4 linked regions of the Homo sapiens genome follow. The protein of the gene in region 4 interacts with the protein of the main gene of each other region in a pairwise test. Each region holds a gene or a part of one and is shown on either strand. Other genes may lie near its edges. The genes, in order: HPCAL1, FADS2, GUCD1 and ZNF655.

The links.
Region 1: the proteins of ZNF655 (region 4) and HPCAL1 interact in binary tests that used the Homo sapiens proteins (3 or more experiments, as listed by UniProt).
Region 2: the proteins of ZNF655 (region 4) and FADS2 interact in binary tests that used the Homo sapiens proteins (3 or more experiments, as listed by UniProt).
Region 3: the proteins of ZNF655 (region 4) and GUCD1 interact in binary tests that used the Homo sapiens proteins (3 or more experiments, as listed by UniProt).

What each region holds. Positions count from the first base shown.
Region 1 is NC_000002.12:10,299,057-10,305,921, forward strand, and holds the start of HPCAL1 (hippocalcin-like protein 1), read left to right. Parts: upstream 1-3,847; 5' UTR 3,848-4,121; intron 4,122-4,643; exon of another isoform or gene 4,644-4,886; intron 4,887-6,865. UniProt on the Homo sapiens protein: May be involved in the calcium-dependent regulation of rhodopsin phosphorylation.
Region 2 is NC_000011.10:61,859,297-61,866,323, forward strand, and holds part of FADS2 (acyl-CoA 6-desaturase), read left to right. Parts: intron 1-3,675; coding exon 3,676-3,773; intron 3,774-3,985; coding exon 3,986-4,082; intron 4,083-4,410; coding exon 4,411-4,490; intron 4,491-5,855; coding exon 5,856-5,981; intron 5,982-6,341; coding exon 6,342-6,393; 3' UTR 6,394-7,027. UniProt on the Homo sapiens protein: Involved in the biosynthesis of highly unsaturated fatty acids (HUFA) from the essential polyunsaturated fatty acids (PUFA) linoleic acid (LA) (18:2n-6) and alpha-linolenic acid (ALA) (18:3n-3) precursors, acting as a fatty acyl-coenzyme A (CoA) desaturase that introduces a cis double bond at carbon 6 of the fatty acyl chain.
Region 3 is NC_000022.11:24,539,915-24,545,142, forward strand, and holds the end of GUCD1 (protein GUCD1), read right to left. Parts: intron 4,170-5,228; coding exon 3,928-4,169; intron 3,187-3,927; coding exon of another isoform or gene 3,184-3,186; coding exon 3,092-3,183; 3' UTR 524-3,091; downstream 1-523.
Region 4 is NC_000007.14:99,553,718-99,561,658, forward strand, and holds the start of ZNF655 (zinc finger protein 655), read left to right. Parts: upstream 1-4,924; 5' UTR 4,925-5,070; intron 5,071-5,107; exon of another isoform or gene 5,108-5,304; intron 5,305-6,815; 5' UTR 6,816-6,842; coding exon 6,843-6,978; intron 6,979-7,941. UniProt on the Homo sapiens protein: Probable transcription factor.

The sequences.
Region 1 (6,865 bases), on a different chromosome or scaffold from region 4:
TAATGGCAAAAGGACAGCTTTTTCAACAAATGGTGCTGGGAAAACTGGATATCTACATGCAAAAGAATGAAGCTGGACCCTTACCTAACACCATATACAAAAATTAACTCAAAATAGATCAAAGACCTAAAAGTAACCTAAAACTATAGAATTTTTAGAAGAAAACTTGGAGCAAAATCTCCACAATGTTGGATTTGGCAGTGATTTCTTGGATATGACATTAAAGACACAGACAACACAGAAAAATAGACAAATTGGATTTCATAAAAATTTGGTGCATCAAAAAGCAAAATCGGGCTGGTGCGGTGTCTCACGCCTGTAATCCCAGCACTTTGGGAGGCTGCGGTGGGAAGATCACTTGAGGTCAGGAGTTGGAGGCCAGCCTGGCCAACATGGTGAAACCCCGTCTCTACTAAAAATACAAAAATTAGCCAGACCTGGTGGCGCACGCCTGTAGTTCCACCTACTCGGGAGGCTGAGGCAGGAGAATGGCGTGAACCCACGAGGCAGAGCTTGCAGTGAGCCGAGATCACACCACTGCACTCCAGCCTGGGTGACAGAGCAAGACTCCGTCTCAAAAACAACAACAACAACAACAACAACAACAACAACAACAACAACAACAAAGTGCTGGCGGTGAGGATGTGAAGAAATTGGAACCCTGTGCACTGTTTGGCAGAATGTAGAATGGTACACTGTGGAAAGTATTATTATGATGCTTCTTCAAAAAATTAAAAATAGAATGACCACATAATCCAGCAATTCCACTTCTGGGTATATACCCAAAACAACTGAAAATAAGATCTTGAAAAGATATTTGTGCACCCATGTTCGTCGCAGCATTATTCATAATTGCTAAAATGTGGATGCAACCCAATGATTTCTTGACAAACGAGTGGGTAAACACAATGTGGTATACACACACATGGAAATATTACTCAGCCTTAAAAAGGAAGGAAATTTGGACATACACTACATCATAGATGAATCTTGAGGACATTATGCTAAGTGAAATAATCCAGTTGCAAAAAGGAAATACTGTATGATTCCACTTATGTAAGGTATTAGAGAGGTAGTCATTATTTAATGGGTATAGAGTTTCAGTTTTACAAGATGAAAAGAGTTCTGGAGATGGATGGTGGTGCTGGTTGCACATCATTAATGTATTTAATACCACTGAGCTGTTCACTTTAAAAGGATTAAGATGATAAATTTTATGTTATGTGTATATTATAATAAAAGTTAGAAAAAAATTGTCATAAAACTAAGTCAGATATTAAGAACAATCAGAATTACTTCTGTCTTGTTTACAGTCATCATATGAAAAACAAATTGTTTATCTAGCATGACACCTGTTATGGGTTGAATTGTTTCCCTCAAAAGATGCTGAACTTCTAACCCTTGGTACCTGTGAATGTGACCTTATTTGGAAATTGGGTCTGCACAGATGATCAAGTTAAGATGAGGTCATTAGGGTGTGCCCTAATCCAATAATGACTGTGTCCTTATGAAAAGGGAAAAGAGACAGGTATATAGAGAAGATGTGAATTCACAGGGAGCGCACATGGCCATCCATAAGCCAAGGAATGCATGAGGTTACCAGAAGCTAAGAGACAGACATGAAACAAACTGCCCCCCACATCTCTCCAAAGGGGCCAGCCCTGCCAACACTTTGATCTTGGACTTCCAGCCTCCAGAGCTACAAAACAACACATTTCTGTTGTTTAAGTTGCCCAGTTGGAGGTGCTTGTTACATTAGCCCCAGGAAATTATACAACATCTTACCTGAATTTGCTTTCTTCTTTGCTCTAGTTAAATTCAAAACTACATATTGAATAACGACGGTGTGCTCTCTCTCCATGAAGCTTCGGGGTGGGTAGACAGTCCTCCTCTTGAAGGAACAGGAGGGACGCAAGGGAAGGGACCAACTTGTATCTCATCTGAGAGAGATACACTCCTGGAATAAGAGGTCTGCGGTTAAGTGTGTTTCTCTAGAAGTTCAGAAACAGAGGAAGCATCTGCGGGCTAAGCTGCTGAGGGCTAGGTGAGAGCTAACTGACCTAAGTTTTGAAGGATGGATGGGTGACAGGTTGGAGGGGGAAGATGGAAAAGTCACATGGGAGAGGAACAGCATGGGCCAAGTGTGGAGGAACCAGTGAGTGGGCTGGGTTTCAGAAACAGGCCTTGGTCTGCTTTTGAGCCCTCCCTGAACTTTTCCACCCCAACCCCACCTCCTGCCTGTGTCTGCCATGCACCTCCCTTCCTGTGAGTCTGTGGACAGACTTTGCCCCTTTGCCCTGTGTGTGCTTGGGAGAAATCTGCTCAGTTTCTGTGGCAGGGATGTTTCTACGTGTTCATCAAACCGGCTTTGTTTACTTCCGAAACACTCATGAAGACCACAGCTGCCAGAGCCCCTTGCATCCTGGTGGGACTGTGCGACTACTTCTGGCCCATGGATGTGGGTGGAAGTGACGTGTGCTTCCCCAGGCCTGGCTCCTGGACCCCACCGACGGCTTCTCACCTGTAACCCCACCAGCCTTCTACCTGGATACTTCACGGGGAGCTAGAGTGGCCTTGGCTAAGAAGGAGGCATGGCACCCGCGGGTACCGGGCCGCCTTCATCAGTCGGTGCACTCTGGTCCACCGCCCACATGCCTTCATGTAATCTTCACTGTAGGGCCCACAGGGAGGGGAACTTCCTCGAGGTCTAGCTTTGCCTTTCCGCCTTCAGAGCCAAGTAAGAATGAGGGGTCTGGGCTCGGCCCACCTTCCCTGCAAGGCCCTGTGCCCGCTCCCCTCAAAGCTGGTCTTGCATGTTGCTCTGGCGGCCTCTGTAGCAGGAGTTCACTCTGTTTTCCGTGGAGGAGGAGTGGAAGGAGGGATTCAAGCTCTCCCCTAGAGACGCTAGAAAGACAGTTTTGTCTCAGCCTCATACGATCGCCCAGCTCCACATTTCTGGCTGTTTCTGTGGTTACCTTTCTTCGGGGATGTTTGGGGCGGGAGGTGGGTGTGTGTGTATATTTGCTCTTCTGAAGCCGTTTTTCCGGAGCTCCTGGTGGGGGTGGGGGTGCTCTGTCCCTGGTTCCTCTCGAGGCAGGTGCAGGGGATGGAGGATGCCCCCCTCCCCGAGAGCCAGGAGGCGCCGACCCTGGGCAGGAGGTGCCAGACCGGCGCCTCTCCCGCGTGGAGCTCGAAGACCACAGATGCCTGGAAGGGAGGAGCACCTTCCGTGGTTAGGTGGGGAAACCGAGGCAGAGGCGGCCCAATGGACTCGCCTAAACGGCCTGGGGAGTCACTGCAGGTAACCAGAGCTGGAGCCAGGCTTCCCACTCCAGGCCCGGGGCTCTCCCCCGAACAGGCGTGGGAAGGGGTGCGAGCTGCACGCGGGGCTGGGGCTGGGGGTGCGGGGCTGGGGCAACTCGGCTCTTCCCCTTCCTAGGCCGCCCGGGCCACTTCCTGCGGCGTGGGGGCGGGGGGCGCGGGCGCAGGGCTGGCCCCTCCCGGGCGCCGCCTCTCGGCCTCTTCTATACCAGCAGGCCAGAGGCCAAGGGTTAGGGGAACAGAACCGGTGCCCGGCTCCGCCCCTGTCCCGAAAGCCACTGGGGGCTGGGACCCGGCAGGGCCAGGTTTGGGCCGCGAGGGCCGAGGAGCAGCGAGGTGCAGGGGCTGCGAGGGCCGAGCCGGGCGCTGAGGGTCCGGCAGGGGGCGTGGAGGGGGCGGGGCCCGGAGGGGGCGGGGCCGTAGGAAACTTGAGCGCCCGCCTCTGGCCGCGCGCCCCGCCCCGGCCCCCGCCTCCGGGTCCCGCCTCCAGGTCCCGCCTTCGCGTCCCTTCCTTCCCGGAGCTGGCAGGCGGGCCGCGGCGGCGGCGGGCAGCGGACGGGCGGACTGACGGGCGCCTCCACCTTGCTCCCTCCCTGGCTGCCGGCTTCCTTTTGTCTTTCTGGGCGGCGATGAGCGCAGGGCCGGCGCAGCAGCTGCGGGCGCACGGAGGCCCGCGCTGCTAGTCACTCCTCCCGGCCTCGGCGCGCTTGTCCCGGGCAGCGGCCCGGGCCCGCTGCAGCCGCCGCCGGCGCCGAACTTGGGCTCGGGAAGCCGGCGGACCGCGTCCTGCGCCGGAGCAGGTAGGGAAGGGGCGGGCTGCGGTCTGCTGGCTGCTGAAGTGTGCCCCGGGCGTGTGCACCCGGCGTGTGCACCGGCGAGCGCTGCGATCCGGCTCTTTGCGTGTGTGTTGTGCGCGCGTGTGTGTGTCCGGGAGTGCCCGCGTTTCTCTGCGCGGTGGAGTTGTGGGTGACTGCGGACGGTGGTGTGTCTTTCGAATGGCGTGTACTCGTGGGCATCCATGTGTGCCTTAGGTGTGCACATTTTGGACTGCGTTTGTGGAATTGTGTGTCGGGGCGCAGTTGCTGGTGGGGAGCGGTGCCTGGCGGGTGTCGTGTGTGAGCAGCTGTGCGCAGAGCGGGGTGGCGGGGTGGGTGTGGGTGGTCCAGCCCCACGCCCAGAGCCCCCTGTCCCTGCTGGTCGGCGCAGTGCGTAGCTTAGGAGCCTCGAGGACAGCTGGGACCCGACGGGCAAGGGCGGGCCTCGCGGGCAGGCTGGGCAGCCCTCAGGGAACAGGTCCGTGCGGCCCACGTGGGTCGCCTGTGAGCTTCTGCCAAGGGTGGGGGCCCACGCGGAGGCGATCCGCTCGTTCCTCCCAGGGCCATGGGGCGACGAGGAGAGCCCTGGCCTCCCCGCGACCCGCACTGCGACCTGGGCCAGACGCGCCACCTTCCCCGGTCGCGGTTTGCTTCTCTTTAAAATGAGGACAGCTCCTCCCTTGGGGGCTGTGGTGACAGGTGAAATGAGAACGCACTGAAGACAGCTCTTGGTCCAAAGCCCCGCACACAGTAGGTACTGTGTTAATTGGATTAGCGTCTCCTGTTTAAAATCCTTTTTTTTTCCCCTTTATCGTGGGTGGGGCCTTACATTTTCCCCGGGCGTGTTTTGTGCCTCTCCCTGGCCCTAACTTAACCGCGAAGCACTGAGATTCGAGAAAGTTTAGCTGCCAGCTGCGCTGCCTCCTGCAGCACCTCCCGGGCGGCGCCGCCTCCGCGAGTGCCCGAGAGCGCCGCGCTGGGCGCCGGCCCTGCCCCAGCCCCCAGGCTCCCGCGCAAGCGTGGGGGTCCCTCTCCTGGCCGGGAGGCAGCGACTGCGGAGTTGAGAACCCTTTGGTTCAACAAGTTCCTAGTCCGGGAGGATGCAGCTCAGCTCGTGGAGTCCGAGAGTCACGGCGTAAAATTGGCGCTTCCCGCACATGCAGATCTCGGGCTCCCGGGGTGTCCCGGCCGCCAAAGGCCACCCCTTTCCTCCTGGCTGACCCCAATTCCACCAGAGGAGGATGTTTGCCAGGGACGCCGAGTCCAGCTGCTGGCCTCGGCATTAGACAACCCCCAGCCCCAGCCCCTGCCATCCCTGCTCCCTTGCAGCCAGCCTCATGCCGGGGGTGCCACATGGGACACCTCCTCCTAGTCCCACACCTTAATTTAAAACATTTACTTTTGAAACCTACTAGTCGTAAAATTGAACCGCAGTGAACGAGCACCCAGCTCTTACCACGACTCACTCTCTGGAGAGTTCTGGCGCCTCGGCGCTGGCTCGGACGCAGCAAGGCCAGCTCTAGGGGTCGGGTGGCTCTCGGCCAGAGCGAAGGATATTCTTTCCCTTCATCGCCTTGGTGTCTTTCTCTGGGGGAAAAAAATCGCCTTTAACCAAGGGAGCCAAGATCTCACCAGTGCAGGAGGCTCTCAAAATGGAGCGCCGGCATGGGGTTGGGCTGCGGAGGGGACAGCATGGGCGGCCTTTTGGTATGGATGCGCTTCCCAACTGTCAGGGGCTACGTGATGGTGTTCCCAGAGAGGCGGGCTGCTTTGCGGGCTTTTAGGAGCCAGGGATAGAAACCTGGTCCGGTTCCTTTGGTTTCCCTCGGCCGAGACTGAAGCCCTGCAATCCTAGCCATGGCAGGCCAGGGGGATGCGATGAACTCATTTTCTCATTTTTCATCCTGACTTAGTGACAGGGGCACACTTAGAATGCACCCTGTTTTCTGTTTCATCAAATGATTTTATGTCCTACAAGAAAAAAGGGCTTTTGGTGTGAATCCTACTCTTTCCTCATAATCAGGTTCCATAATAATATTAAAAAAAAAATCAGTCTGGCTTTCTCAGCTCAGAAGACAGACCCAAACCCAGGTTTGTGTTTTGTTTTGTTTTTGTTTTTTTCTAGTTAAAGCCAGCCCTTTGTCTCAAGCAAGCCAGTGTTTTGGCCTTAGATCTATTTCTGTTTCACTTTTGAAAGTGCCTGTAATTACTGAGCTCTTGAGGTTTTATTGGATAATGTGGCAAAGGGAAGGCCCGGGGGCCCTGCCTCTCCCTTGCGGTGGGATGTGGTGCCACGGTGGCACATTCTAGCCTTGCCTGCTCCCTCTGCGTCCCACTTTCATGCTGTTTTTAAGGTGGAACAGAAATGTCAATGTGTGATAACAATTTGGGAGACTTTGTCTTTGGAATCCAATAAATGGAAGGTCCTTTGATCTGTGGAGAAACCAGAACAAGTCAAAACCCCAGAAGAACAGAGATTTGCCCAAACTCCAGCCAATGACCCATTTATTTCCAACAAGCCCTCCTAGAGATAGATTCTAAGTGAAATACAAGAACGTGGACACACTCCGTCCCCTTTCTGGCCACAGGGCTGTGCAGAATTAGAAGTGCAGTCTATGGAAGGACAAGGACTGGACTTCGCTTGGTGCAAACGCCCCAGCCAGGCGCCCCATACTCACCTAGCACCATTTCACCCTGGAGCTGTTTCCTCCTGTTGAAGCGCTGGTGCT
Region 2 (7,027 bases), on a different chromosome or scaffold from region 4:
TCTGCCCACCTCAGCCTCCCAAAGTGCTGGGATTACAGGCGTGAGCCACCGCGCCCGGCCTGTTGATTACTGTTTTATCGCTTGCTAACTGAAGTTGTCCTTTTCACCCTGACTGTGAATTTAAGAGCAGCCAAGTCAAATTTTATCTCCAAGTCTTGGACCCATATATCCAATCTAACTCCATTTGGAGGTGTCCCAGCCATTGCAAATCCAACATATTCAATGTAAGTCCTCTCCTCTTCTCCCACAACCTAATCCTGATGGTCTCCATGTTAATGAATGGCTCCATCATCCACCCAGTGGCTCAAGTTAGAGACTAGCACCATTATGTTTTTTCCCTCCTTATACATGTTACACCCTCTCCTTGCCTCTAGCATCCAATCCCGTTCTAACTCATAAGTGGCCTATTGCCGGGCGCAGTCACTCATGCTTGTTATCCCAGCACTTTGAGAGGCCGAGGCGGGCAGATCATGAGGTCAGGAGTTCGAGACCAGCCTGGCCAGCATGGTGAAACCCCGTCTCTACTAAAAATACAAAAAATTAGCCTGGCATGGTGGTGTGCACCTGTAGTCCCAGCTACTCAGGAGGCTGAGGCAGGAGAATTGCTTGAACCCGGGAGGCGGAGCTTGCAGTGAGCAACTTCTTTTTTTTGTTTGTTTTTGACTGTGCTTGTTCCCTAAGGAACAAAGTATTAAACAGGAAAAGAAATCACCCTATGTTCCTAAAAGGGGATGGCAGAGTGGGGACAATGTGATGAGCCCATGGGGCTTTCAGAGCCAGGAGCGCACCTATGACCTGGGGCACTGGTTCTCAGGGGAGCTGTTCTGCCCTTTGGCAGTATCCGGAGACACTTTTAATTGTCACAACTTCAGGAGAGGAGGGTGCTACTGGCATCTGGTGGGCGTCTAGCCAGGATGGTGCTTAGCACCCTGCCATGCCCTGGAGAACCGCCCATGACAACAAGCAGCCTGTCCCAGGTGCCAATAGTGTGGAGGTTGGGGGACCCTGGCTTAGAGGAAAGAGGTGACAAACCCTAAGATCTTTGAAGGAGGCTTCCCGGGGAGATTTACATGCTCTGGCAAGGTTCCCTGTTCCCGGGGCCACGTCCTGGATCCTGAGATGCTCCCACGCTTCACCCTCCTGGAATTTTGCTGTATCTGACACCACTGGCCACTCCCTCTTGCAGTTCTTCCTGTTGGCTTCCAGGTCCCCACCTCTGCTGGCTTCTTCCCAACCCCCTCGCTCCGCCTCTTTGGCTGCTTCTGATCTCTTGGGCTCTCTGCCCCTGAAACCAGCGATCTCTGTGTATGTGTTGCTCTCTACACTCAAAAGAAGTCCAGGCCAGGCATGGTGGCTCACGCCTGTGATCTCAGCACTTTGGGAGGCTGAGGTGGGAGGGATCACCTGAAGCCAGGAGTTTTGAGACCAGCCTGAGCAACATGGGCGAAACCCTGTCTCTACAAAAAGCTGGGCGTGGTGATGCGCGCCTGTAATCTACCTACTTTGGAGGCTGAGGTAGGAGGATGGCTTGAGCCCAGGAGTTTGAGGCTGCAGTGAGCTGTGATCACACCACTGCACTCAAGCCTGGGCAACAGAGTGAGACCCTGTCTCTTAAAAATAAAAGTTGGGCCAGGGCAATGGTTCACACCTGTAATCCTAGTACTTTGGGAGGCCAAGGCTGGAGGATCACTTGAGCACAGGCATTCGAGACCAGCCTGGGCAAGTAAGTGAGACCCCCCCATCTCTATAAAAACTTAAAAAAAATTATCCAGGTAAGGCCAGACACAGTGGCTCATGCCTGTAATACCAGCACTTTGGGAGCCTGAGGCAGGCGGATCACAAGGTCAGGAGATCGAGACCATCCTGGCGAACACGGTGAAACCCCATCTCCACTAAAAATACAAAAAATTATCCGGGCGTGGTGGCGGGCACCTGTAGACCCAGCTACTTGGGAGGCTGAGGCAGGAGAATGGTATGAACCCAGGAGGTGGAGCTTGCAGTGAGCCAAGATCACACCACTGCACTCTAGCCTGGGCGACAGAGCGAGACTCCCTCTCAAAAAAAAAAAAAAAAAACAGAAATTAGCTACTCGGGAGGCTGAGGTAGAAGTATGGCTTGAGCCTGGGACAGAGTCATGATCACACCATTGCACTCCAGCCTGGGCAATAAAGCAAGATCCCATCTCCAAAAAAAAATAATCCGTAACCCCATCCTCATTTTGTTTCCATATATGTGTAGATACACTGCACACTATTGCACCACACACACAGAATAGAAGGAATGTGATGGAAAGTGGGAGCAGAACTGGCTACATCTGCCTCCCTCCTCACCTTGAAGGCCACCTTATTGGAACGTGAGGTCCTGCCCTCGGCCAATGTTGGCCCCAAGGCCATCTCCAGCCTCTCCTGAGCGCTCCCTTCCTCCTTTCCTGTTCAGCTGCTGGCACCCGACCCCTGATCACCTAGGACCAGCCTAGATTCCCCACAGCCAAGCAGGCACAAATGCAGCCACCGTTGCCTCTGACAGTTCTGGAATCTGTCACCTCCTTGTCAGTGCCGTGGGTTCTGGTTTAGGCCTCTGTCATTTCATGTCTGAGCCGCTGGAATAACTTCCTAGTCTCCCCCTCTCCAGTGGGTGGGGATCTATTTTAAGACACAAATGTGACCTTGTTCTTCAGTCGTTTGAAGTGAGACAGGGCAGTCCCTTGGCCTCACCTTCCACCTCGGACACCTGTGCTGAGCCTGTGGCATGTCACCATACCTAAACTCATGGCAGGATGAGCGCCCTGGCAGTGGGAACAGGCCATGCAGAGGCCCCGGGGAGGGAGTAAGCTAGGTCAGGGGGCTGAGTAAAGACAGGTTCTTAACCCCATGAGGCTCCGTGGGTGACTGGGTGGGATGGGGGCTTTAGCAGGGGAGAGTTGGGACCTGCTTGGAGCGAAGGCCACTCTGGTTGCCATGGCCACGAGGACAAGCAGGAGACTGTGGGAAGCTGATGCTGTGGTCCAGTTGAGACAAGACTTGGGTGGCAGAGAGACAGTGGACAGGGTGGAGCCGTGAAGTCACCCTCCCAGTACATGAGAGAAGACGTCCAAGCCCAGTCCCTGACACCAGTCCAGCCAGAGGCAGGGAGGAGAGCAGAGTGGAGGGACACAGGATGACAGTGGGGCGTGGGGAGGCCAGCCTCTGCTGTGAGAGCTCTGAGATAGGGACGATGGTACCTCTGACCTTCCCTACCCCTCCAAGCCCTCTGTCCTGCTGGAAGGAGATGCCAGGAGGAGACCCAGGTGCTGAGGAGGAGGGACAGGACTGGGGGACGGTTGGGGACCTGGCCCCGGGTTGGGGGCGCACCTTCAGAATCGCCCTTGCCCCACGAGAGGGCTGCTGACCCCCACCCCTACCCCATGGCTGCCCCTCAGCAGGAGGGTCCGTTTCTCTCCCGAAAAACAGGGCACAGTCACTTCCTGATGCTAAAACACTCAGCATTTCCCTAGAAACAAAGGCAGCCATGCAAACCCCGAGCAAGCAGGTGGCGTGTAGTTGCCCATTGCATTTCAGTGGGCTGCGGTCCAGCTTCTAGAGGCCTGAGTGTGAGGTGTGTGCACATCTGGGGCACGCACTTGGTGCCAGGGCAGAGGAGAGGGCAGGTTGCACCTAACTTCATCTTTCCCCGCAGGACCTGGCCTGGGCCGTCAGCTACTACATCCGGTTCTTCATCACCTACATCCCTTTCTACGGCATCCTGGGAGCCCTCCTTTTCCTCAACTTCATCAGGTGCCTGGGCTTTGCTGATTCATCCCTGGGCCCTCCACTGGCACTGATGATGGCTTTGGCATGAGAAGAGGCTCGGACGGCTCCACTTTGCCTGGGGACCTCCCATCCTGGCCCCTTGGCAGGGGCTGTCCTGGGCTGGTTGGGAGAGTGGATCTGTTCCCACTGTGGCTGGGCCCCCGGAGGCCCCTGCGCTGAGCTGTGTTCTCTTGCAGGTTCCTGGAGAGCCACTGGTTTGTGTGGGTCACACAGATGAATCACATCGTCATGGAGATTGACCAGGAGGCCTACCGTGACTGGTTCAGTAGCCAGGTAGGGAAGTCAGGGCCGGTCACCAGAGCCTGGTCCCAATGTCCATGTCCTGGCCCCAGATGATCTGCACCTGCTAACACAGGGCTGTGCTGGGCCTCCCGGGGCTGCCTGTGTCCTTTTGCTGGGAGCTTCAGGGCTGAGCAAGAAAGGGCAGCAGGAATCCCCCAGAGGGACAGGTGGGGCATCTGGGTGGGCTGAGGCCATCAGGCAGGACGGTATGATGTGGACGGGTGGCCTGGAGACCCTGGGTAAGGCTGGGCCCCCTGGGAATGAGGCCGGGCCCTTGGGCCTTCCTTTGTTCCCTGACACTCATCCCCTCCACTGACAGCTGACAGCCACCTGCAACGTGGAGCAGTCCTTCTTCAACGACTGGTTCAGTGGACACCTTAACTTCCAGATTGAGCACCAGTGAGCGCGGGGCTGCGGGGAGGCGGGGAGACCCACAGCGGGAGGGAAGTGGCCGCTATCCCACTGGGCAGAATGCAGAATGTGGGGGCCACCTCTTTGTCTCTCTGACAAGGTCTCTGCCCAATATAGAGCAAGGCTCCCAGCCAGCCCCGCTGAGGTCAGGAGAGGGGCTCCCCTATTCCATCTCCCTGAGGGTCATCCTGTGCCCCTCATGCTGTGCCACTTGGTCATAGTGGTTACCACCTCCCTCCATGTGGGCCTGGGACTTTGTAGTTATGGAGCCTGCACACGCACCTCATGACCCTGTGAGGCTAGCAGGGCAGGGCTACGTAGCTTGCCTGGAACATCGGCCGAGGGACTGCCCTGCTGCCCCTTGTCCTTGCTTCACCTCTTGTCACTGTTTTTTTTTTTTTTTATTAAAAAATAAAAAATGTAGAGACAGAGTCTCACCCTGTTTCCTGGGCTGGAGTGCAGTGGTGCTTTCTTGGCTCACTGCAGCCTCGAACGCCTGAGCTAAAGTCATCCTCCCACCTCAGCCTCCTGAGTAGCTGGGACTGCAGGTGCGTGCCACCATGCCCAACTAATTTTTTCTTTTTTTTTTTACTTTTATTTATTTATTTATTTTGAGACAGAATCTCACTCTGTTGCCCAGACTGGAGGGCAGTGGCGCAATCTCGGCTCACTGCATCCTCCACCTACCAGGTTCAAGCAATTCTCAGGCCTCAGCCTCCCACGTAGCTGGGATTACAGGCGTGTGCCACCACGCCCAGCTAATTTTTGTATTTTTTAGTGGAGACGGGGTTTCACCATGTTGGCCAGGCTGGTCTCAAACTCCTAGCCTCAAGTGATCCACCTGCGTTGGCCTCCCAAAGTGCTGGGATTACAGGTGTGAGCCACTGCACCTGGCCTAATTTTTTATTTTTATTTTTTGTAGAGAAGAGGTCTTGCCGTGTCGCCCAGGCTGATCTCAAACTTCTGGCCTCAAGTGATCTGCCTGCCTCGGCCTCCCAAAATGCTGGGATTACAGGCGTGAGCCACCGTGCCTCACCTCACTGCCTCTTTTCCTAGCATTCCCCAGCTATTTCATTTCTTTTTTGAAAAACATGACACTTTGTCTCTGGCCACCCAATATCTTCCCAGCTCCATAGAGCACAAACGCCCTCCTGCTCACGGAGGGCTGCACCCTCCCCTCCACACACGTGGCACCCCACTGGGCACACACGAGGAGCCACACTTTGAGACTGGTCCTGGCTGTGGACAGGGTCTCTGAGGGCCCCAGCCAGCCTCTGCCCAGGTGGTGGGAGGAAGCGGGAGCAGCATGGCCCTCTGAGTCCTCACGCTCTGCCCACCCTACACACTCCTCAGCCTCTTCCCCACCATGCCCCGGCACAACTTACACAAGATCGCCCCGCTGGTGAAGTCTCTATGTGCCAAGCATGGCATTGAATACCAGGAGAAGCCGCTACTGAGGGCCCTGCTGGACATCATCAGGTGAGGGGTGGAGGTCCACAGGCGCTGGGCCCTGGGATCACCCGTGGTGCAGACAGTGGGATCACAAGAGGGGCTGGGCCCTCCTGGCACAGTCACCCACCAGGGCACCTGCCTTACTCCCGAGCCTGTGTTAGGAGCTGTTGGGCTTTTCTCCCTGGGCTGCGAGAAGACCATCCCTTTCTGTGTGGGGTTCCTGGTGGGCTCTGAGCTGACAGCCCCACAGGCCCAGTGGCAGTGGTAAGCCCTGGTTAGGGCCAAGGGGACATACATGCCACCTTAATGATGGCCTCCTCAGCCCTTGCACTCCCTGGGGCCACTCCCGTCCTGGTCCCTGACCCTGGTCCATCCCCAACTTTGCAGGTCCCTGAAGAAGTCTGGGAAGCTGTGGCTGGACGCCTACCTTCACAAATGAAGCCACAGCCCCCGGGACACCGTGGGGAAGGGGTGCAGGTGGGGTGATGGCCAGAGGAATGATGGGCTTTTGTTCTGAGGGGTGTCCGAGAGGCTGGTGTATGCACTGCTCACGGACCCCATGTTGGATCTTTCTCCCTTTCTCCTCTCCTTTTTCTCTTCACATCTCCCCCATAGCACCCTGCCCTCATGGGACCTGCCCTCCCTCAGCCGTCAGCCATCAGCCATGGCCCTCCCAGTGCCTCCTAGCCCCTTCTTCCAAGGAGCAGAGAGGTGGCCACCGGGGGTGGCTCTGTCCTACCTCCACTCTCTGCCCCTAAAGATGGGAGGAGACCAGCGGTCCATGGGTCTGGCCTGTGAGTCTCCCCTTGCAGCCTGGTCACTAGGCATCACCCCCGCTTTGGTTCTTCAGATGCTCTTGGGGTTCATAGGGGCAGGTCCTAGTCGGGCAGGGCCCCTGACCCTCCCGGCCTGGCTTCACTCTCCCTGACGGCTGCCATTGGTCCACCCTTTCATAGAGAGGCCTGCTTTGTTACAAAGCTCGGGTCTCCCTCCTGCAGCTCGGTTAAGTACCCGAGGCCTCTCTTAAGATGTCCAGGGCCCCAGGCCCGCGGGCACAGCCAGCCCAAACCTTG
Region 3 (5,228 bases), on a different chromosome or scaffold from region 4:
CTAAGAATACAAAAATTAGCCGGGCGTGGTCGTGTGTGCCTGTAATCCCAGCTACTCAGGAGACTGAGGCAGGAGAATTGCTTCAACCCAGGAGGTGGAGGTTGGAGTGAGCCGAGATCGCACTACTGCACTCTTGGTCTGTCTACCTCAACCCCAACTCTGCATGCTCTGAGCAGCCAGCTCCACCCAGCACTCACCATCCCACCCACTTTCGTCTCTCCTGCTTCAACATCTCCCTCATTCTGTTGTGTCTCCTGTAGTTGCATTTGTTGCAGTTCACTTGAGCTGAGCCCCGAGGCCCTTCTACCTCTAGTACTGCCTGTCCAGGACAGGCACAAGCATCCAGGCCTGAACGGGATGGATATGGCCCTAGAAAACAGAAAACAGGATTCCAGTCCCAGCTAAACTGGGTATGGCAAGACAAGGACCTGGGTTCCCATGTGCTCATGCTGAGAACTTGAGAAGGGACAGGAATTCTGCAGATCAACACAGCTTCATAAAGGCCAGCCAGGGGCTACCACCATTTTGCAGTGAGAATAATGTTTATTGAGAATGGCTCATTACAAACAAAATATATATAAAATCTCTGCAATGCAAAAGATCCCTTTCATCCCCGTGGCTAGAATGAACAAAGCCCAACTGTCCCACATGGCTTCAGGTGCTGTGCTGGTCCCCAGCATGTGAACAGGCTGGGCAGCTGTCGGTGTCATGTGCTGTGGGCAAAAGTCCCTGATGTCCAGGCTCTCTGGCTCCATTTTCATGACTTGTGCAAGAATGCAACACAGTGTGTCTTACATCCTGCCTCTGTGACCCTCCCTAGGCAGATGAGTCTTGAGAATGGGCAGCTTTCTCATTCATCTTTCAGGAAGGTGACCTTTAACTTGTGGCATGCCCTGAGAAGCCATCCTCTGGGACCAGAGACTGAGTGTTTCTAAACATTTTGGCTGGACTGAGGTGCTGTTACCACCCTCCATGAAGGCCACTCCCTAGTGACAGCCCTAACAGCATGTGCACTGTCTAAATCACATCCCACCATCCTGAAAACTTCATTTCCTCCCACTGGTTTCCTTCATACAGCTATTCTAACAATTTTACCAGAACACCACCTGAAGATGCCCACACCCCACAGCTGCTGTGCATGGGTACTCCTGGGCCACCTGGCATTAAGGCAATGGAGATGAGACCAGTCTAGAGCCAACACCGGTCTCTGAAACCCAGAAGGGCTGCCCAACTAACAGCACCTCCCTCTTGGCCAAAGGCTTTGTCTAGGGTTGAGAAGCAATTTGGCTGGGTGGTCTCACTGCCCTCCTAAACAGAGCCCACCTCTGCCCCCAGAGTCATCTGTGCTCCAAAGCAATGGGCGGGGGCACAGCTGCCACCATGCCATGCCTTGGGCATTGGAAGAGCAGGACCCAGGAGTGCAGGGATGGTATCACTGTTGCCCCTTTGAAAATGACCCATTTCCCACTTTGGGAGGCCGAGGCAGGTGGATCACCTGAGCTCAGGGGTTCGAGACCAGCCTGGCCAACATGGCGAAGCCTGGTCTCTACTAAAAATACAAAAAAATTAGCCGGGCATGGTGGCATGTGCCTGTAGTCCCAGCTAGTGGGGGGCTGAGGCAGGAGGATCGCTTGAACCCAGGAGGCGGAGGTTGTAGTAAGCCAAGATCGTGCCACTGCACTCCAGTCTGGGCAACAGAGTGAGTCTCCGTCTCAAAAAAAAAAAAAAAAATCCATTTCCTTTAGTTTTTTAGGTGCAGACTGGGGTTCAAGACCCAGCTCCACCACTGTCCTGAGCAGACTCCCAAGACTGGGCCAGCTGCCTCGTCAGCTGCCTCGTCTGAGAGGTGAAGGGGCAGGTACTTAAACCACTGGCCAAGTCCCTTTCTCTGAAAAAGAACTTGAGCTGGCTAACTGCCCTGTGCAGAGGTGTTAGTGGTTCCAAAGTACCTTCACTCTTGCTATTACTGTTTTACTTGAAGGTGATTACCCCTCAAAAATGAAAACTTAAATCTCAAAGAAACAACCCCTGACCCCAACCTCCCCAAAAAAGAGGAAGGAAAGAGCTCTATGCTACTTGCTGTGTTGTAAGATCCTGGGCAGGAACCCCTCTTCTCCATCAAGATAGACAAGACCCAGTATCCTGTGCAATCTGGTGTGAAGACCAGGTTGGGTGGGCAGCTGCAGGCTGCCCCAGCCCGTTGCTTTGGAGCACAGGCCTTAGCAGCCAACCTTAAAGGACTAGGGGCTCCCCACACTCAAGAGGGCAGACCCTGCTGTCAGGATTTTGGCTGGTGTCAGGAGGCCTCCTGGGTGCAGGGATCCCTCTGGGGCTAGGGCAGCTGTTTATTCCCAGAGCACTGCTGCCAGCCACGAGGCCTACCAGTGGGATCTAGGCCCGAGAGCCCTCCATCTGACAGAGCTGGAGGACCTGGAGGGCTGTGGGGGCTTTAAGAGTCTCCAGCGGCCAGGGCTCTGCATGGCAGGGCAGCTGTGAGGTGTGTCTATGCTGGGTGGCAGGGGTCAGATGCCCTGTAATGAGCCACAGAAACTTGGGCCCATGGGTAGGCAGGTGGTGGTGGTATCATCAACCACTGGGCACAGGGGCATATGCAGCACTTCCAGGAGAGAGGGGCCTGGAGGGGTCCTCAGCCCTGGGGGATTGGGGTCAGCTATGCTGTCTCCAGACACTCACATACTGTCCTGACAAGTGGCATCCGTCAAGCAACTTCTCTCTCCAGGCTCAGTCCTGCGGTCTGTGGGGAGACCATTGCCATGGATCTGGCTCAAAGGCAACAAGGGCACTGTCGGGACTGGACTTCCTGTGGGCGCAGCTGGAGTCAAGGCTTGGGGTCTTGGGGTATGCTTCCAGCAGCCAGCAGGTGCTTGGGGTGAGTGACATGACAACACACGGCACTGGCAGACAAAGCAGCTGTGCCAGTCTCCGAGTTCCTGGGACTCTGCCAGATGGGCTGAGGCTGCAGTTCCACATTCCAACCCCAGCAGCCCCAAGCCTGGGCCAGGGCATCCTGAGCGGGCCCGGCTGGGGTGGGGATGGGGTCCGAGGGCCTAGGCGCACCAGGCTCCTGCTGTCAGCTGTCCAAGTAGACAAAGAGGATGTCCTCATCTGTGCCATAGCTGGTTCTGGCCTCCTCAAAGTTACTGATGCTGGTGCTGCACATTCCTGCTGGGGGTGGGGAAGGCAGAACGGGGTCAGTGGGTTGTGAGAGAGCACCTACACCACCGACACAGTGCCCAGGGGAGCTGAGTGAGGTCTGTTTCCCATCCACATGGCCATTCCTCTCAACTCAAGTCCTCCACCCCCAGGAAGCCCTCCTTGCCCATCCTGGTCTTCATGAGGTTTCTCTGACTCCTCCCCAGTAAAGCAGTTGGAGAAAGGCCCAGAGAGGGGCAGAAACGTGCTCCAGGCCACATAGACGGGGTAAGTCTATGTGGTCAGGGCGTCCAGGGGCTGTCTATGTGAATCCAGTCTATGAGAGTCAGGGCAGCCCTTCCCTGTGCCCGGAGGGCAGTAGGCAGGCCAGGATGGGTCTAGAGCAGGGGCTGGGTCTGGCCGGGCTTTTCTTTCTGAGGAATGTGCCGGCCATCCTGGTGGTTGGGGGAGGGGTGCAGCCTGGGCAGCATGAAAGGGTAAGGCAGGGACCTGGGCAGTGGCGTGGGGCCTGTGGTGTGAGAGGGAGGGGTGGCCAGGGTGTAGAGGAGGCTGGCACAGTTTGCGGCAGGTTTGCCTGCATGGCCTGAGGGGTGGCCACAGTGACAAGAGCCCAGGAGGAGCAGGGGCTTTGGGGAAAAGGTAGGGAGGGAGGCCCTGGCCACACTAGATTGAATGGGTGGGAACTGTGGGCACTGGGCATACAGAACAGTGAATGTGGACCACTCTGCCTCACCCACCCCACCCAGCACTCACGGTCGGCATAGGCTGGGTTGTTGTAGAAGATGCAGCCAGTGGCCCGGTTGTAGCCACGCAGCACGATGAAGTGGCCCTGGTAGTCAGGAGTGCGGCAGAAGCAGTGGTGGCCACTGGGGGTGAAGCAGCAGTACTTGACAGGGCTGGAGCACAGGTCACAGTGCAGCACCCCCGAGTTCACCAGCACGATGGCCACATGGCCCTGAGCCAGGTGCGCCTGGATGTCCTTCACACTCACTGTGCTGTGGGCGGGAGGGGGGTCAGCTGGTGCTGCTGGGCCCCCATTCCCCATCCCTCAAATGGATCCCTGCTTGTGCCTGTTTCTCTGTTACAAAGCTTGGGGATCGGCTCCTTTTCCCTTTGCCCTGAACTCCCTGCTCTGTCACTGTGGCCCAGGCTCAGCCTAGAGCCAAGCAGGAGACCGGTGGGGGGGGTGTGTGTGTGTGTCTGAATGTGCACAAAGATGAGCTGGCTCTGTCAGGCCCTTCACGGGGAGAGCATTCAGCTCCAGGTGGGTCCAGTCAAGGGCCACTAGAGCAGCACACAGAAACCATCCTCCTACTGCACCCCAGCCTGGTTAGTGAATTCTTTTTGCCCAGCCCTGTCTCTCCTCTACCCTAAATCATGTGTGGTTTACATTGAAAACTGCCAGCCAAGCATGGCTCAGACACTTTCAAAACCAAATGCTTCTCTGAAAGAGCTATTTTACTTTTTTTCTAAGGCTCCTGGTGGCAGAAGGGGCTGCCCAGGAAGGGCTGGGCCACATTGCTTCCAGGGGAGCTCCAGTTCAGCAATGACATCTACCTGGAGCCTCCCTCACTGGCAGAAGGCACTGCCCCATCCTGTGCCTTCCACTAGGCAGCAAATCCAAATGAAAACCTAGAGCAGGGCTGGGCACAGTGGCTCACACCTGTAATCCCAGTGCTTTGGGAGGCCAAAGCGGAAGGATCGCTTGAGACTAGGAATTAGAGACCAGCCTGGGCAACACAGCAGTACCCTGTCTTTACAAAAACATTTAAAAATTTACCAGGCGTGGGGCGTGGTGGTATGAGATTGTGGTTCCAGCTACTCGGGAGACTGAGGCAAGAAGATCACTTAAGCCTGGGGCTGTAGCAGTGAGCTGTATTGCAATATTGCGCCACAGCACTACAGCCTGTATGACAGATTAAGACCCTGTCTCTTAAAAAAAAAAAAAAGAAAAGAAAAGAAAACACCCAGAGGGACAGAGGGCAGATGGGGCTGTGGGCAGGGGGAGCTCTAGGCCAGGGGCTCCTGCATCTTTGCTGGAGGGGCTGCTCACC
Region 4 (7,941 bases):
CCCAATGCATTTCAGCGCATATACCATATTCTGAAGAACTGCTCCCAACTTTGCAAGGCATTACATCTTAATCGCAATTTAGCCCAGTCTTCAACAGGCCATTCCAAAACCCTATCTGGCTAGCTGCTTCTGGATGATGAGTATGCACCATGAATTTTGTAGCTTCGAGTTCACTGTCACACCTCCTTGGCTATCGGTGGGTTCCTTAGTTTCAGGTATGTCAATGGATAAGGCACCCTGTAAGCTCTCAGATGGTGGTGCTGCTGGAGGCAAAGTAGTTGGGGAAGACAAGCTCATTTAGAGCATATATCAATTCTGGTAAGAACAAATTGATGCCCATTCCAAGGTAAAAGGGATCTGATGCACTCAACCTGGTGGTAGCTGGTATCTCTAAGACTCAGTGTTGGTCTCTAATGCTGGCAGGCTGGACACTCCACCATGGTGAGAGTTACATCAGCCTTGGTAAGAGGTAGACCATATTGGCCGGGCACGGTGGCTCACACCTGTAATGTCAGCACTTTGGGAGGCTGAGGTGGGTGGATCACAAGTTCAGGAGTTCGAGACCAGCCTGAGCAACATGGTGAAACACCGTCTCAACTAAAAATACAGAAATTACCTGGGTACGGTGGTGTGTGCCTGTAGTCCCAGCTACTCGGGAGGCTGAGGCAGGAGAATTGCTTGAACCTGGGAGGTGGAGGCTGCAGTGAGCTGAGATCACACCACTGCACTCCAGCCTGGGCAACAGGGCGAGACTCCGTCTCAAAAAAAAAAAAAAAAAAAAAAGAAAAATAAGAGGTAGCCCATATTGTTGGGACCACGCACAGCCTCTATCCCTGCTACCATGGTCTCTGTTCATAAGCCTATTGCATAAACAATAAGATGGTCCCTAACCAACAAGCCAAGCCATTCATCACTGCCTAGGAGTCAATGCATATCCCTACCTTAGGCTACCTCCTCCAAAATATGGCATGGGTGACCAAATGTACCATTGCTCACTGAGATAATTTTTCTTCACCAGTATGCTTCAGGGCAACGCGAGTGGGGCTGTAATGAAGAACAGTCTGTTTCTGGAAGATGCCAACATGCTGAACTGACCCAATCCCCAATCTGTGCAGAGGCCAAGGCTCTTCTGTCTCCATCAGTTAGTTGTAGGGAACTTTTATAAGGCCATAGGAGTAAGTTTATGGGAGAGGTGGCAGTAGAGCAGAGGTAACTGACCTGGGAGTTTGGAAACGTGGGTTTTGTTTTTTTGCCTTAGAAGGCATGACCTTGCTCCAGAATCTTAGGTATTTGTGCTGTGACTCTTTATGATGGGTTGAATTGTACCTCCACCTCATCCCCAATTAACAGGTTGAAGTTCTAGCCCCTAATACCTCAGAATGTGAAATTATTTGGCAATAGAGGCATTGCAGATGTAATTACTTCAAGATGAGGTCATAGTGGATTAGGGTGGGTCCCTCATCTAATGACTGGTATCCTTATAAAAAAGGGAAGTTTAGAGATAGTACACAGGGAGAATGCCAAATGAAGATGAGGGTAAAGACTGGGAAAATGCTTCTTACGATGCCAAGGAATGCAAAATATATCCAGCAAATCCCCAGAAACTAGGAGAGAGGCATGGACAGATTCCTTCTCACAGCCTCAATAGGAACCACACCTTAATTTCTGACTTCTAGCCTCCAGACTGTGAACCAACAGATTTCTGTTGTTTAAGCCACCCAGTTTGTGGTACTTTGTTATAGGAGCCCTAGCACACGAATGCACACTCTTATTGGGGTTTGCCAGCAACTCCATACAGCACCTGTATCCATCAAGGATATTTCTGGAACCACTGAATTTGCAAGTAAGCTTGCACTGTTGCTTGGATTTACTATAGAGTGCTCTCTTGCCCCAATAAAAAGTGGAAGCTGGCCAGGCATGGTGGCTCACGTCTGTAATCCCAGCACTTTGGGAGGCGGAGGTGGGTGGATTGCTTGAGGTCAGGAGTTCAAGATCAGCCTGGCTAACATGGTGAAACCCCTCCACTACTAAAATACAAAAATGCTGGGCATGGTGGCGGGCGCCTGTAATCCCAGCTACTAGGGAGGCTGAGGCAGGAGAATTGCTTGAATCCAGAAAGCAGAGGTTGCAGTGAGCCGAGATCACGGCACTGTACTCCAGCCTGGGCTACAGAGCAAGACTCCGTGTCAAGAAAAAAAAATAGTAATAAATAAAAAGTGGAAGCTTTTTAGGTCACCTAATACATGTGTTGGAACAGTTTTCTCAGGTGCAGAATATGCTACCTCCCAAATCCAAAGGGGCCCACCAGGACCTGTACCAATTTTTTTGGGATTAGAGGGTGCAAGGTGGAACAACTTTCTTTTACCTTTGGGTGATGTCCCCAAACCACTGGGCCCCACCAAAACTTCATCCATTTGATAAGTGCCCATATCTTCAGGTTTCTGTACTGCCTTAGTAAGAAGTCTTACTAGGATATTTATGACCCTTGTCACTTGCTGCTCACTGGGTACTACTAGCATTTGTCATCAATATATGGACCATCATGATGGTTGGGTAAAGTTCCTGCGGACTACACTGTGACAGAGAACAGGTCTCAGGATCCCACCCTCTCCCTGTATGAGCCACGACTTTGACTCAGGGGACCTGCCGAGTCTGCACAATTGGTCTCCTTTACATTACTGTCACTGTTACAAACAGATCCTCGGCCTAATTTTCAGCTTAGCTAGATGCAGAATTACCTTAGTAATTTATAAAAAATCAGCTATTGTATGTATCTAGATCTATTTCTGGACTTTTTTTTCTTTAAGAAATTCAACCTCATATTTCTGGACTTTCTGTTCTGCTCTGTTGATCTATTTGTCTCTATGCTGATACCATACCATCCTGATTACTGTACCTTTAGGAAAAAAATCTTAAAAAAATACAAGTATTCCAATTTTATTCTTTTTCAAAATTGTTTTGGCAATCCTAAATCCTTAGCATTTCTATATAAACTTTAGAATCAGTTTGTTAATTTGCACTAAAAAAAACAAAACAGGCTCGGTGCAGTGGCTCACGCCTGTAATCCCAGCACTTTGGGAGGCCAAGACGGGCGGATCACCCGAGGTCAGGAGTTTGAGACCAGCCTGGCCAACATGGTGAAACCCCATCTCTACTAAAAATACAAAAATTAGCTAGGTGTGGTGGTGCCCACCTGTAATCCCATCTACTCTGGAGGCTGAGGCAGGGAAAATGCTTGAACCTGGGAGCTGGAGGTTGCAGTGAGCTGAGATCGCGCCACTGCACTCCAGCCTGGGCGACAGAGCAAGACTCTGTCTCAACAACAACAAAAAGACAAAAACGAAAAAAGGTAACAATTTTTTGAGTTGTTTCCACCTCTGTCATCTGGCAAACTGTTAAAAGAAAATTTTGCTCAAAAGCAAAATAGCAGCTGCTGTTTCTTAACACTTTGTTATGTTTTGATGAGTACTGGTGGGAAGTGGCCTCTTTAAGTGGGTACCTTTTGTGGTCCTCTCACTGGAGCCAATTGCCTGAGTCAGCTAAAACTTGGACGCGATGTGCCTCACTGCCATAGCTCACTCACCTTTGCTGCTGAAATGGTTTCCCATCACATTGCTAATAGGTACAACCTGTGAAGGGTTCTAGGTGGGGAAATGGCAACTCAGGAAGAACTCCAAACCTTTAGCTCTCCTAGGATATTAAAATGGCCGTTATGAAGAGGAAGAAGTACTGTGTCATCTATTGTCCTGGGGACCTGTCAACAGGAACAATAGATAGACATCACCAGGGGTGTATTTCTGTTCAACACAAGGAAAAGTTTCTAATTGGAGCTGTCCAGCATGAAATGGACTAAGCAGTGCATTTTCTTTCTCCGATCCTGACTCCACTGTGACGGGCACTGCAGACTAGAGAGATTGTGTCCTAGTATGAATTTAGGTTGGATAAATGATACTTAGGGATAAAGAGAGGAAAGGAATATCAGAATCTCCAAGAAGCTGATACATTTTGAAAAAATATATAAAATGCCACACTTCAGGTTTTCTTGTGTTTAATTTGAAACGTCCAGTAACATTAAAGAACAGCATTTGATTTGCTTAAACAAAGTAGTAACAGCTGAAGTTCCTTCCAAATCACTTTTCTGATTCTCTAAGAGGCTTGCCTATGCCTTGCAGATCTAGCTTCACCTACAAGACATATTCTGTAAGGATCCAGGTTCAGCAAGGTGTCAGAATGTCCTAAGGGTTTCTGTCCCGGCGCTCTGCCTGTCCCGCTTGTGCACAATGCTTTTGCCTATCCCTGTTTCTGCATAGATTTTAGTCTTCCCACCAGGGACGCAACTGTCAGTTTCCTCCGTCTCTCTCGGTTCTATTCCAATCTGCTCATCTCCCCTCCCGTCCCCGCTTTCCCCAAGGACCTACTGAGATTTCGATCCCACAACTTAGTGGGTCCCATCTCACCCAGGCCCCGCAATCCTCGCCTTCTACTTGTCAGCGTTGTACTACACTCTGAGCAGGCACCCCTGTGCTACTCACGGAAGCGGGACCATTAGGTCGGCCATTCCTCCTCACCCCACGACACGCACCCACTGGGTCGGGCCGCCTCCTTGCAGGGAGTCTCAAGGATGGGCTGGCGTCAGGGAGGGGCCCAGGGGGCGCTTTCCCAACACTGGTCGCAGTCATTGTTGGTATAACGGCTAGAGACGCCCAGTGAGTTAGCATGGAGGGCAGTGGGACCGGAAAAAGACGTGGAAAAGCTGCGAAAACGAGCCTTCGAATCATGGACGCGCGGGCCCAGCTCCTCCTCCGAGTTCCTCATCCGGGGCCGTCACTCACATCCGGGGCCCTCACTCACATCCGGGACCCTCATCCGGGGCTCTCACCCACATCCGGGACCCTCATGCCTGGGCGGAGGAGGGGGGGCCCTCATTCGGGACCCTGCACTCCGTCGCCGGAAGTGCCACCGAGAAGCGCCGGCCTCGGGGCTGTCTACAGCGGCCCGGGAGAGGCTGTGGTGGCCCCGAGCGCGAGTGTGTAGGTGACAGGACAGCGGCCAGGCCCGCCCCTCCCCTCGGTGAGTACCCGGAAGCCGTTTTGGGGTCGCAGCGGGGTGGCAGCTTGTTTTGCCTTCACGGGAGTAGAAGGAGGCGGCGTCCGGCCGCGGCCGACGGTAGTTCGCTTCCCCGAGAGTGCGCGGAGGCCCGGGTGCGAGGAGGGCCTGTTTCTCTTCAGCCCTGGTTCATTCACCTCGCGGACCGAGGGCCCCGCCGTCAGGAGCCGGCGACCGTGCCCTGGTGCGAGCTGGTCTGTATGTCCTCACTGGTCCTTTTGGGACTTTGCCTTGGCCTAAAAGGGAAGTGGGAGGAGGGCAGCGCCGGGCAAGGCCTTCTGAGGACCGAGCTGGGAGCCGGGCAGGGGCCCAGGGCGAGGGTGGTGGGAGGGGGACGGCACCCTCATGCGTCCTTGGGCCTGAAGGACGCCGCTCAAACCTGTTCGAACCGCAGCTCTTACCTGCGTTGCTCTCAGGATTCCGGGAAAAGGCCGGTCTAGCTGGTCTGAGTTAGCGAAGGGCCTGACCCCAAAAGTGGAGTTTTATTCGCCAAGCCCGTGTAGTAAATCGGAGTGGGCTGACGGTGTTACCAAGACATTTCCTAGGGGGCCTGCTGTTTTATTTATTTAAATGAGTTTATTTACGTAAACGCGGGCCTGTCACGGTGGTTCACGCCGTAATCCCCGCACTTTGGGAGGCCGAAGTGGGAGGATCGCTTGAGGCCAGGCGTTCGAGTCCAGCCTGGGCAACATAGCGAGACTCCCATCTCTGCTAAAACAAAATTAAAATAAAATGAGCAATCATAACTAGCATTTTTCTCTGGGCACCAACTTGAGCCTCCAAAGACGATTGTAAATTTTAAATATTTTGTTTTGTTTATTTGAGGTGGGCTGTCACGCTGTCATACAGGCTGGAATGCAGTGGCGCAGTCATAGCTCACTGCAGCCTCTACCTCCCAAGCTCAAGCGATTCTCCTGCCTTGGCCTTTGGAGTAGCTGGAACTACAGGCCTGGGCCACCTAATTTTTTTTTTTTTTTTTTTTTTTGTAGGGACGGGGTTTCACCATGTTGTCCAGGACGGTCTGGAACTCCTGAGCTTAAGGGATCCACCCGTCTGTGCCTCCCAAACTGTTGGGATTACAGGCTTGAGCCACCGCACGTGGCCAATTTTAAATATTTTAAAGTTTCCACAGAAAGCTTTACACTATTAAATTGTACCGTGTTAATTTTTTTAATGCCACAAATTCCAAATTAGAGACTCTTCTATGATTTGGTTCTTAAGTATTTAAAGCTGAAGCATATCCATATTTCTTTTTCTTTTTTTTCTTTTTTTTTTTTTTGGGACGGAGTCTCACTGTGTTGCCCAGGTTGGAGTGCAGTGGTGCAATCTTGGCTCACTGCCACGTATGCCTTCTGTATTCAAGCAATTCTCCTGCCTCAGCCTCCCGAATAGCTGGGATTACAGACCCGCACCACCACGCTGGCTAATTTTTGTATTTTTAGTAGAGAAGAAGTTGCACCATGTTGATCAGGCTGGTCTTGAACTCCTGACCTCAAGTGATCTTCCCGCCTCAGCCTCCCAAAGTGCTGGGATTACAGGCCACTGCGCCTGGCCCCATTTTTCTGTTACTTATTTAGGGTGGTTAATCATTATCAACTAATTTTTATTGAATATCCATAGTGTGTAAGATCCTTTGCAAAGTCCTGACGATATAAAATGATGAAATGCTTTAACTTATTACAGTAATTTCTCTTAATCTTACCTTGCAGTGATGGTCATTGTCCTCCAGAGCAGTGATGGAGGAAATACCAGCCCAGGAAGCAGCAGGGTCACCAAGGGTCCAGTTTCAGTCTTTGGAGACCCAGTCTGAGTGTCTGTCCCCAGAGCCTCAGTTTGTGCAGGACACCGACATGGAACAGGGACTCACTGGGGGTAAGGCAGAGAAAGCACTTCCGTCTGGGAGAGTGGGAGTGCGGAGGGGCTCCCGAGGGGGCTCCTGGGCCTGGTTTGAGAGAGGCCAAGAACTGGAATAAGAACATGGTCCCTAGAGGGAGGAATGAAAGAGGGGGCAGATGTGACTCAGTTCAGTCCTAGTCTGAGCCCCTTTATTAAGGATAGCTCATCTTTCTCAAATAAGCAGAGTGATGGCTGCTTACTCGCTGTGGTGGTTTTTCCTTCAGGCAACCTTCACTTCATCCCAGTTCTCACATCCAGAATAATTTCTAAGATATGCTGCTTTTGCCACATCTCACAGTCCTTTCCTGGCTCTCACTTCCTCTTAGGTTCAGGACCTTTCTTTCCCCTGTTCCCTTCACTTAGTTTTTCTTTGCTTTGTCACCTGCCATCCATTCTGTTGTAACTGCAGTGTTTTGTGACTAGACTAAATTTGGTCAAGGAAGCAACCATTTAATTCCTTGGTTGAACACAATGCCTGTATGAATGTATATATACTGTATTTTGACTACGCAGTCACACTTTGCTGTATCGTATAGGTAGGTTGGTCTTTTTCTTCCTTTGTTTTATAAGAGCTGTGTCTTAGATTGCCTGTGGTTAACTCTAGTGCCTGAAATAACTTGTGTGTCACCCACACAGATCAAGTGCCACAATGTGTAGAGTGCTGTGGGGGATTGTGGGACTGTGGAAAAGATTTCGAGGAAACAGATGACCCTTTCTTGTTCTTGGGGGCCTTACACACTGGTTGAGACAGCACCCATTCACAAGAGAAACGCTGATCAAGTGTCTAGAACAGTGCCTGGAAAGGGTCAGAAGTCTGCTAAATAACCCTAGCCCAGGACAAGTCCCCACAAGTCTTTATGCTTTGCTTTGCCCATCTGCAAAACAGGTATAGTCTTACTCTTCTGTAAGAGGACTGTCATGTGATGAAGATAAAGTGAA